Linked DNA regions of Homo sapiens: all the other regions are reported to be linked to region 1. The links are microRNA targets in miRTarBase. Many come from high-throughput screens and were not tested one by one. Region 1 holds a microRNA gene; each other region holds the end of a gene's coding sequence.
Evidence for each region. Region 1 holds the annotated microRNA hsa-miR-378b (ACUGGACUUGGAGGCAGAA, at 1,967-1,985, shown strand). A microRNA usually pairs through its seed, bases 2 to 8, with sites in the 3' UTR of a target mRNA and lowers its output. Matches are read on the target gene's strand: a 7mer-m8 pairs with bases 2 to 8, a 7mer-A1 pairs with bases 2 to 7 and ends in A, and an 8mer does both.

Region 1 (3,352 bases):
TAAATTAATCTATACAACTGAGACCATGCTGTGCAAGCATTTCAAAAACTCACAGACCAGTGGATTGGATAAATAGTCTCAGAAAAGAGTCTGTTTGCAGTTCCCGCCTAAGAAAACAAACAAACAAACAAAAACCCCTCCCCAACCCCCAAAAACCAAACAAGGGGAGGATTGAAAGTGTACAGTACATTCATGCGGGGGACGTGGTGGCTGGGCGGGTGCATGGCTGGTCCATGTCTGGGTGGGAGCCAGGAAGGGCTTGTTTTGGGAAAACCGCTCACTCCCGTAAGCCCCCAGTGGAGATCCCGCCCCTTGCCTTGAAGTGAAAAAGAGTTCAAACAGCATCGCAGCCAGAGAAAGGGTCTGTGGGTGGAAACGTTGGTTTTCTCTCCAGTATTTGGTTTCCGATTGTTGCTCGTTGCTGCTTGGGTGAGTTGGGTGCCTGGATGGATGGGTGCCCGGAAAGCGGGTGGCAGCGGGGTCCATGAGGGCGGGCGGGCAGGCGAGAGGGTCCTCAGCTAAAGCGACGTCTCCAGGCTGTGGATGGGGCTCCCTGGACTTGAAGAGGTAGCTGATTTGCTTGTGTCGGTCGTCAGGTTGATCCCACTGTCGATGGCGCTGTTGTTCTTGTTGAGGGATGACGGCGGGCTCGAGTTCTGCTTGAGCGCGGCATCTTCTTCCAGGTCGGTGTCATCAATGAGGGGGATGTGGGGCTGGGAATCTTCGATCCGGAATTCAGGATGAGCCATGAAGTTATGGATGGAGGTTCGAGATTCAGGCTTTTCTAAACCTTCATAGAGAGAGCTACGGAACGCCTTCACGACGCGGATCTGCAAGGGAAGCACAGGGGTCAGGAGCACTGCCCAGGGACCACAGCCAGGCTCGGGGGGCTCACAGGAGGGGCGGGTGGGAGAAGGGTTAGGGCAAAGCAGGTGGCTGGAATCCATAGTCGCTGGGTGTTATTAGCATTGACAGGATGGGGGAGAGTGAAAAAGGGGGCTCAGGTTATAGGCATCCTTGAGCTGGTTTTTAAAAATCTCTTTGGTTTTGGTAGAAACTAGTGTTAGGACAGGAGGAATCACCAAGCACCATCAAAGAGATGATGGGGAACAGTGGTTAAAGGAAGCACAGTCGACTCCTGCGGGCACCCACACCTAGTGAGAGACTGAGCCTTGTTCACTTTAAAGCAGAGGTTCAACCATGCAGACAGGGAGGAGGACCAGGTGGGAATCAAGTAGGAAAGAGGAGAGGCTATTAAAAAAATTCATCTTAGGAAAACCACACACAGTTAAGAAACCATACAACATGGAACATGTTACGTGTCACAAACAGAAAAGGCACAGAAAGGAGAGACGGTTGGATGAGTTGGGATGAGAGAGACACATGAGGGCCAAACAGAACGGGAACATCAAACCAAAGGCAGCAAAGCAAACCAAAGCCAACCCAGGGCTTTCTGAGGTGCAGAGCAGAGGCAGCCAGAAAGCACATGGGAGCTGGCGGACAGATGACATTCGGGGGCGGGCTGCATGCCACGGGGAGGCCGGGAGCCACATGGCACACACAGACAGACACACGGCTACACTTGGAAGCCTGGACAATGTGAACGGAGGTCGTTTGTACCCAGCGTTTCTTTCCTTCATGCATTTGGGAGGTAAACACTCGAGTATAGACTCAAAGCCCTGGCCGGCCAGTTATTGGAGCTTGCTTTGGGGTCTCTTATTTCCTGGGGGATTTTGTTTATTTCTTTATTTGTGCTTTGAAAACACAAAACCAAAAAACGAGGCTGGAATCAGATGGCCAAACCCAGCCCCAGTGGGATTCTGGGGTGTGTGGAACTGAGTCACAAAACAGCAAGTTCTTTCATTTTCTGTCTCAGTTGTGAACCACACGTCCTGGGGCCTCAGTTTCCTCCGCTGAAGAATGGGAGGAGGCTGGTCATTGAGTCTTCAAGGCTAGTGGAAAGAGCACTGGACTTGGAGGCAGAAAGACCCAACTTGCATCCTGGCTCTGCCACATCTGGTGCCTTGACTGTGGACAAGCCACACTAGCTCTCTGGTTGTCCTCTGTCCTGCCTCACAGGGTGCAGAGGGACGGGACCCTCACTTGGAAGAGAGGTGTCCCTTCTCTGGACTCCTGGGAGGGGCAGCAGTGCCTGTCATCTCAAGAGTCTGATGGGACTTGGGACAAAGGTGCCTCCTCCTCTCGTCCCAGCCCCAACTCGGAGTGGAGTCAGAGGTGGAGAAAACAAGGCGGCGTTGGCGCCTCCAGGACAGAGCCTTAGTCGGCTGCTGTGTGCAGGCCAAGTGGCACCCACCTGCAGAGCAGTGGCTGCCCTGCACCACAGGCCTGCGGGGAGGCAGGGGACTGGACGAGACGGTCGTGGGGAGGCCCCTGAAGTCCCAGGACTTGAGCTCTCAGCGGAACCCAGGGGTAGCTCCTTTGTGAAACCCTGGTGGGGAAAGCCCTCTTTTATGGAAGTGGAGTTTCTAGGTGACTGTGGTTGATGATTTTAAGTGTCATCGCTGAAGGTTTGTTTTACTGTTGCAGAGGGAATTCTTTCTAAAGCATGTCATACGCTCCTCTGACTTCTAATTTAGAGTGCACAGAGAAGAATTTAACATAAGCTTTGTCAATTATCCTTCTTGGTCTTAGGTAAGACCCCATGGATTGTCTTGTTTTTTCTCCCTTGCTGTCAGTCATCGCTTACTAGTTAGTGCTGACTTTTCTGTTTTCTGAAAAGCACCTCTGTCCTTTCACCTTGCATACTGTGAGCTGGGACTCCAGGGTACCCCACTTGCTGGAATTGTGCTTTAAATAAGAGGCAACAAGTGCCAAATAAGAGCCAGCCAGACACGGCCTTTATGCTGGTGCTCCATCATGGCCACTGTGGCTGCTCTGAGCTCTTTCCCCCTGGAGTCCCTCTTTGTGGCTCTGCAGAGATGGTTCATATTCTGATCTCCTGAAAAGTGAGCCGTTACACCTTGATTAACTGAAAACAAAGAAGGCGCTGCAGGCCTCAGCTTTCTTGTTTGTAGAATGGGAATAGCATCAAGGCTGTAGCTGCCTAGCCTGGTGCTCAGTGTGTTCTGAGGTTGAAGTGCAATTCAGATGCTGACTGGAACACCTAGTGTATGTGTGGGGCAGGGGGATGGTGGCAGGACCCTGTCATGTGACTGACAACGCAGAGGGGATGACACACAATGAGATGAGGCCCCTCCGCCCTCCCCGTGGCATGGAGACAACAGAAAAAATGAACTGCTCTGGACAAGACTGTGGGGACGAGACTTTTTGGGACACCCCGCCACGGCCATCTCAAGTCTCCACTTCGGTTCTCTCCGAGGCTGAAATGGAA
Region 2 (3,352 bases), not on the chromosome of region 1:
ATAGGTACAGCCCACAGGTTTTGCTGATAGATTGTATATGGGGTGTGAAAGAAAGTGACGCATTAAAGATGAATCCAAGGTTTTTGGCCTGAGCAAATGGAAGAATGGAGCAGCCATTTTTGAATGGAAAAACTTGGGTGTGGGGGAAGTTTCAGATTTGGGGGCAATATCAGGATTCATTTTTTATATGTTACTTTTGAGATGCCTATAGACATCCAAATGGGGATGTTATGTAGGCAGTTGAATATAGAAGTTCGCAGGCAGAGGAGAGAAAGGTCTGGGAGTGATCATTAAGAAGATTGGATTTTAAAGCTATGAAACTGCAGGAAATCAAGTGAGTGTAGAAATGGGGTCGAAAGACTGAGCCTAAGGGCACTTAGCATTTAGTGGTTGGGGAGTTGAAGAGTTACCAGTGAAGGGAATTGAGAAGGAACAGCCAGAGAGATAAGAGGAAAACCAGATAAGTTCTAATAAAGTGTCATTCATATGTGTTGTTCTCATAATATCACATCCATTGCTCACCTTTTCCTTTTCCTCCTTCACTACCAATATCACTACCATGAGATCTGTGTGTGTGTGTGTGTGTGTATGGAATGCATAGTGCTAGTCACTTTATGTGTATAACAGGAGAATTACTGAAAAAGCTAACTCATCTTTTTTTTTTTTCCTGCTATATACTCACTAGGGAAAAAATCCCTTTTTTCCTCTTCTGATCTCTCCAGGTCAGGGAATCTAAGTCTTTGCATAAATTCTGGGTCCCCCCTTGACAATCCGCTAAGCAGGATGGCTCTGTCTGAGAGGGGAAGGTGTTAGAAGCTGGTGCTTTCAGTGGAATGGGAGGGACGAACAGCTGGAATCCTGGAGGAGAACTGATTTCTTTTCCTCTGTAAGCCTGGAGGAGAGGGGTTAAGGAGGAGAGGAAGGGGGATATTAGAGACTTGTGTTTAGCTAGCATGAAACTCTCTACAGTGGCAGCAAGATTTTGGAAGGAGAAAGGCTGCCTGTATGAGTGGACATTAGAGAATGAAAGCCACAACCTTGAAAGGGTTGGTGTGAATCAACTGTGTTTGAGTGGCGATCACTTGGGGGAACCTCTGTTGCAGAGCCTGATAAAGGCTCAGTGCCAGGGAAGGGCAGTGAGGCACCTGAAATAAAACTGCTTTGCAGAAAGAGCATGTCTAAGCCTAGGACAAGGATCAAAGTGTTTGTAGGAGAGTATTTGTTGTGACAACATAGACCTGGTTTTAGAATCTCCTCAGGACTGAGCCATCCTGGCTTGTTTTTAAGCTTTGGGGGAACACTGGCTTTGTGACTATAAACCAAGAGAGATGTAATCCTGGAACTAAATCATGGGCCATCCACTATGGTGCAGGCAGGAATTGGAACCAGCCAGAGAATCACCTCAGTCTGCTGGACTATGCTACAACATTATGGTAGAAGGCAACAGCATTAACTAAATGGTAAGACTCCACTTTCTACCTTTTGTATTGGGAAGAGAACTGCACCCTTTGGTCTAAGACATGAACCCTCAGTTTCTTGGACAATCAAGGGTGGAGAGGCCTCAAAAAGGAGAGACGGAACTTTCTAAAACTAAGGCACTAGGGATTTGAATGAATCATTGAAAACATAAAAGAGATAAAGCCTCTGAGTTTGTTAAACAGGCATTACCATTGTATATTTAAAAACTTGGGAAGTTTTAACTGAAGAAGGCAGCATGATATGATAGCTTTTGCTTTTTACAATATGATGTTATTAGTCTTGTTCTGTGTGGTTCTGGAGAGCAAAACAATAAAGCATTGTAAGTTGTATGAGTGTAAGAACAAGTATTCACTACTAATTCCCAGCACATGAATAGTACTCAATACATTTTCAATAAATGATTGAATACATGTATGATAAATGAAAACCAGTGGGTTAAACTTACAAGGAGGCAGAGGCTTTTTTTTGTTTTGTTTTGTTTTTGAGACAGAGTCTTGCTCTGTCGCCCAGGCTGGAGTGCAGTGGTGCGATCTCGGCTTACTGCAGCCTCCACTTCCCAGGTTCAAGCGATTCTCCTGCCTCAGCCTCCCGAGTAGCTGGGATTACAGGTGTGCGCACCACGCCTGGCCAATTTTTGTACTTTTAGTAGACATGGGGTTTCACCATGTTGGCCAGGCTGAAGGAGGCAGATTTTTGTCCCAGCTTATCTTTCTAAAAATTCCAAAATTAAATAGACTATCCTTAAAAAGCAGTGAAATTCTTTACCACTAGGAGTGAAACAGGAGCTAAAGAACATTTTTGGGGGATGTGATAGAGAGGATTTATTCATTTGATAATAGTTAGAACACATAACCTCTGAGATCTCTGTAATCTCAGATACTTTAGTTCTATAATTCTAAATCCAAGGGTCTCTATAGATAGGCTTGAGACAAGTGTAAACAAACTCATGATCTCAGAGAAATCTTCAAGTGGCATGTTTCAATGGTATGCTTATTAAACAAATGCTCATGACAGATTTTCACAACAGTAACGAATGTTATTTCACAACATCAAATCTTCCTTCCTCAGGAAGAAATGACATTAATAAGAAGGTTGATGGATTTGGATTATTTTTCATGTTTCCTGGAGGTAAAACCAGTGTCCTCACTTGTTTTCCTCTTTTTCCTCATTTTGAAGACTATTTGTTTTCATTTTCTTTGCCTCCTCTCTGGCTATGTGTCCCCGGAAGGCAGCTTGGATTTTGACAGCAGCAACCTCTTCTTTTTCCTTATCTTCCTCAGAAGAGTCCTTCATCGAAAGGAGAAAAAGTAAGAGACTCTTTAAATATGGCGTAGTTTTGATGCCACAAAAATAAATGGATGAAATTTAATCATTTTAGGGATGCAACTATCTGAGAGCTGTTGCTTCCTGAGGGAATTTCATATATTGTCACATTGTATATGTACCAAATGGCAAATGCCAAAATAGCAGGCATTTTGTTTTGTCACTCTTTTAATATGTCTCTGCAACAAAAGATCATTGCCAACTTTCTTTCCCCTAAAATAGTGCCTATTTAAGTTTCCTGAGCAACAACATTTTTTGGGGGGTTGGGGGGACAAGAAAGAATCCTTGAGGCATGGTAAAAATGTTAAGAAGAAAGAACTGTAAATGTTATGTTTCAAAATAATCACAATTACATATAATGAATTAGAATAACTTCTCAATTTCTCAATGATTAGTTAATCATCGTCATACATTTAAAGTGAGGTGCCAAAGAGAAATCCATTTAGTCCAATAATGTCAGTTTTAACAGGGTTGGTTGAACTTTGGCACATACCCTCTTTTAAAAAAATTGGGTATAAATTTTTAGCTATAAATTTACAGACAGTAAAAT
Region 3 (3,000 bases), not on the chromosome of region 1:
ATGTTATTAAATCTTCAAATAGGCTGAGCGCGGAAGCTCATGCCTGTGATCCCTGCACTTTGGTAGACTGAGGCGGGTGGATCACCTGAGGTCAGGAGTTCGAGACCAACCTGGCCAACATGATGAAACCCCGTCTCTACTAAAAATACAAAAAATTAACCAGGCATGGTGGCACCTGTAATCCCAGCTACTCGGGAGGCCTGAGGCAGGAGAATCACGTGAACCCAGAAGGCAGAGGTTGCAGTGAGCTGAGATCATGCCACTGCACTCCAGCCTGGGCAACAAGAGTGAAACTCCGTCTCAAAAAATAAAAAATAAATAAATAAATAAATAAATCTTCAAATAAACCTACCTAGTAACACAACGATTATAAGTAACTTGGGTAATTACGGCAGACACACAACTACCATCCGTGCCTTGATCTGCCCTGCTGGCCCCCTGGGCTGAGCAAGTCAAGGTTTGGGTGGGGACAGTATAAATCAAGCATCTGGGCAGGGGCATGGTGGCTTACACCTGTAATGCCAGCACTATGGAAGGCCAAGGCGGGTAGATCACTTGAGGTCAGGAGTTTGAGACCAGCCTGACCAACATGGTGAAACCCCGTCTCTACTGAAAATACAAAAATTAGCCAGGTGCAGTGGTGCACGCCTACAATCCCATCTACTCAGGAGGCTGAAGCAGGAGAATCACTTGAACCTGGGAGGCGGAGGTTGCAGTGAGCCGAGATCATTCCACTGAACTCCAGCCTGAGTGACACAGTTAGACTCTGTCTCAAAAATTAACTAATAAATCAAGCGTCTGGCCACACATCTAAATATGTGACACTAATTTAAACAGAATATGCTACCATAAACCAGGAAACCAGGTGACATATTTTCCACATTTTTGGAGAAAATAAAAATTTTAAGTAAATTCTCTATTCCGAAATAGAATAGAAAAAAACATATACAACAAAAAAAAAGTTGCTCAGGTGATAGGGAGCTGATAGCAAAATCTTAAACAAAATTTACTGCTACAAAATTAAGGTTTACATAAAATTTTAAATAACATAAACACAATAATTGGCAAAATATTTTTGTTCAATGGGTTTCAAAAATCAAGAAGGTTCATCTGTCATCTAGGTATGCCTGTTTTCTGATGGTTATAGCTAAAAAATTCCATAAAGACCACCCAAAACATGTAGTTTTTAGATTGGCATTCCATATTACGAACAGGTGAGGAATATTCTTAAAGGTATTCCTACAAAGCTCACATGGTATTTACCACAGGCCATGTATAAATTGGGCACTCAAGAAGCATCTGATGTAATAACAGATGAGCTACTTCAAATTATTTTAGAGCAACGCTTAAAATATTTTCTGGCTGCCCAAATACCATTGTTAAATACAATTAGACATTTTTGCTCTTAAACTGATTAAAATAGTATCATACATCTTTTGAGCAACCACTTTTACAGAATTTTGAAATTCAAATTTCATTTGAAAGTCATTTATGATGTGTAAGTCACATTAAAGTCAAAGCACTGCTCAGCTGTCTTGTAGAAACTTTTGAGTCCCCAGAATTCAGACTCTAAAATGAATGCAGGCAGGCCAAGGAAGTCCTAATACTCTGTGGTACAAGTAGGGACATTAAAACAGCCTAAAGGTCTATAGCAGGGAATTATGGAGGAATACAATTTGAGCAGCAGAATTTTATTTGACAGTCAAACATGAGGGGACTTGGCTATTTCACATATTAAGGTCTACAGATTTAAAAATGCTGACTAGAAGTTCTACACATTTTAAAATATTTAATAGCGGCTGAGCGTGGTGGCTCATGCCTGTAATTCCGGCACTTTGGGAGGCCGGGAGAGGGGATCAAGAGGTCAAGAGATTGAGACCATCCTGGCCAACATGGTGAAACCCCTTTTCTACTAAAATACAAAAAAATTAGCTGGGTGTGGCGGTGTGCGCCTGTAGTCCCAGCTACTTGGGAGGCTGAGGCAGGAGAATCACTTGAACCCGGGAGGCAGAGGTTGCAGTGAGCCAAGATCGTGCCACTGCATTCCAGCCTGGAGACAGAGTGAGACTCTATCTCAAAAAAAAATTTAACGGCAGAAAATTTCTATTTCTAAAAAGGAGAGAGATAACTATATTAAAAAATATTTGCATTATGTAATAATGCTTTTTCCCTGTAAGTAAAAAATTACCAGGACTAAGTACCACTAAACACATGCTCAAGTCATAAAAAGCACTGGTATTCTGAATGTACTACATGAGAAAAAAGACAAATTAATATAATAGTTCAATTCATCAAATTAAATGTTCCATTGACCTCAAATTTTAAAAATTTAGTAGTGTTTATTATACACAGTCTTCTAATAAATAAAAGAGGACACGTAATAAAGATTCAGTTTTCAGTAATTTTCAATCTTCAAGACTAACAGCCTTAATCTTTGATTGAGTTTCTAAATTCTCCACAATATCTTTCAGATAATCTTCATCTTTTAAAAAATATACATAGAATTCTCTTTCCATTTGATGTAATTTATTATTTGCCAAAGTTTTTCTTTTTGTCTTCACATCAGCAAGAATATCAGTGAGGAGATGATTTAGCTTATTCAGTTGAGATTCAACTTTATGAAACTGCTCTGTTAACTCCTAAAAAAGGAAAATAAAAATAAAAATTAAAACACTTTATTCCTAATACCAATTATAAAATTAAAATATAATTTACATGGAAAGACTTTAAAGGACTTAATAACTTCCCGCAATTTTAGCAATAAATAAACCTCGATTTAAAATCCATAACAGGTTTAATATAAATTCTAAGTAAGATTAATTGCAACAACTTCTGATAGATAATTTTAAGTGATTCAAAGGAAACTCTTGCTGAAGTGTACTCGATATGTAAGCTGTTCTGTGCATTCATATATTCAACAAATGCTATTGTGCCAAGTACTGTTTTAGAGATTACTGATACAAGAATAAACAAAATCTCCCTGATGGAGCTTATATTCTG

Region 2: the mRNA of SPA17 is a reported target of hsa-miR-378b. Seed matches in the 3' UTR shown: 7mer-m8 at 1,411-1,417.
Region 3: the mRNA of HAUS3 is a reported target of hsa-miR-378b. The part of its 3' UTR that is shown has no 7-base or 8-base seed match.

What each region holds. Positions count from the first base shown.
Region 1 is chr3:10,328,296-10,331,647 of GRCh38, forward strand. It overlaps MIR378B (microRNA 378b), which reads left to right and starts at 1,934; the gene lies at 1,934-1,990. It overlaps ATP2B2 (ATPase plasma membrane Ca2+ transporting 2), which reads right to left. Exons shown (of 23, transcript NM_001001331.4): 23 at 1-830. The coding sequence ends at 519. RefSeq lists an enhancer at 1-537.
Region 2 is chr11:124,693,717-124,697,068 of GRCh38, reverse strand. SPA17 (sperm autoantigenic protein 17) reads right to left here. Exons shown (of 5, transcript NM_017425.4): 5 at 1-2,766. The coding sequence ends at 2,623. Among named protein-coding and RNA genes, the nearest start is that of SPA17, 21 kb to the right of the region's middle.
Region 3 is chr4:2,229,522-2,232,521 of GRCh38, forward strand. It overlaps HAUS3 (HAUS augmin like complex subunit 3), which reads right to left. Exons shown (of 6, transcript NM_001303143.2): 6 at 1-2,639. The coding sequence ends at 2,406. All of the region lies in intron 2 of POLN (DNA polymerase nu), which reads right to left. Among named protein-coding and RNA genes, the nearest start is that of HAUS3, 11 kb to the right of the region's middle.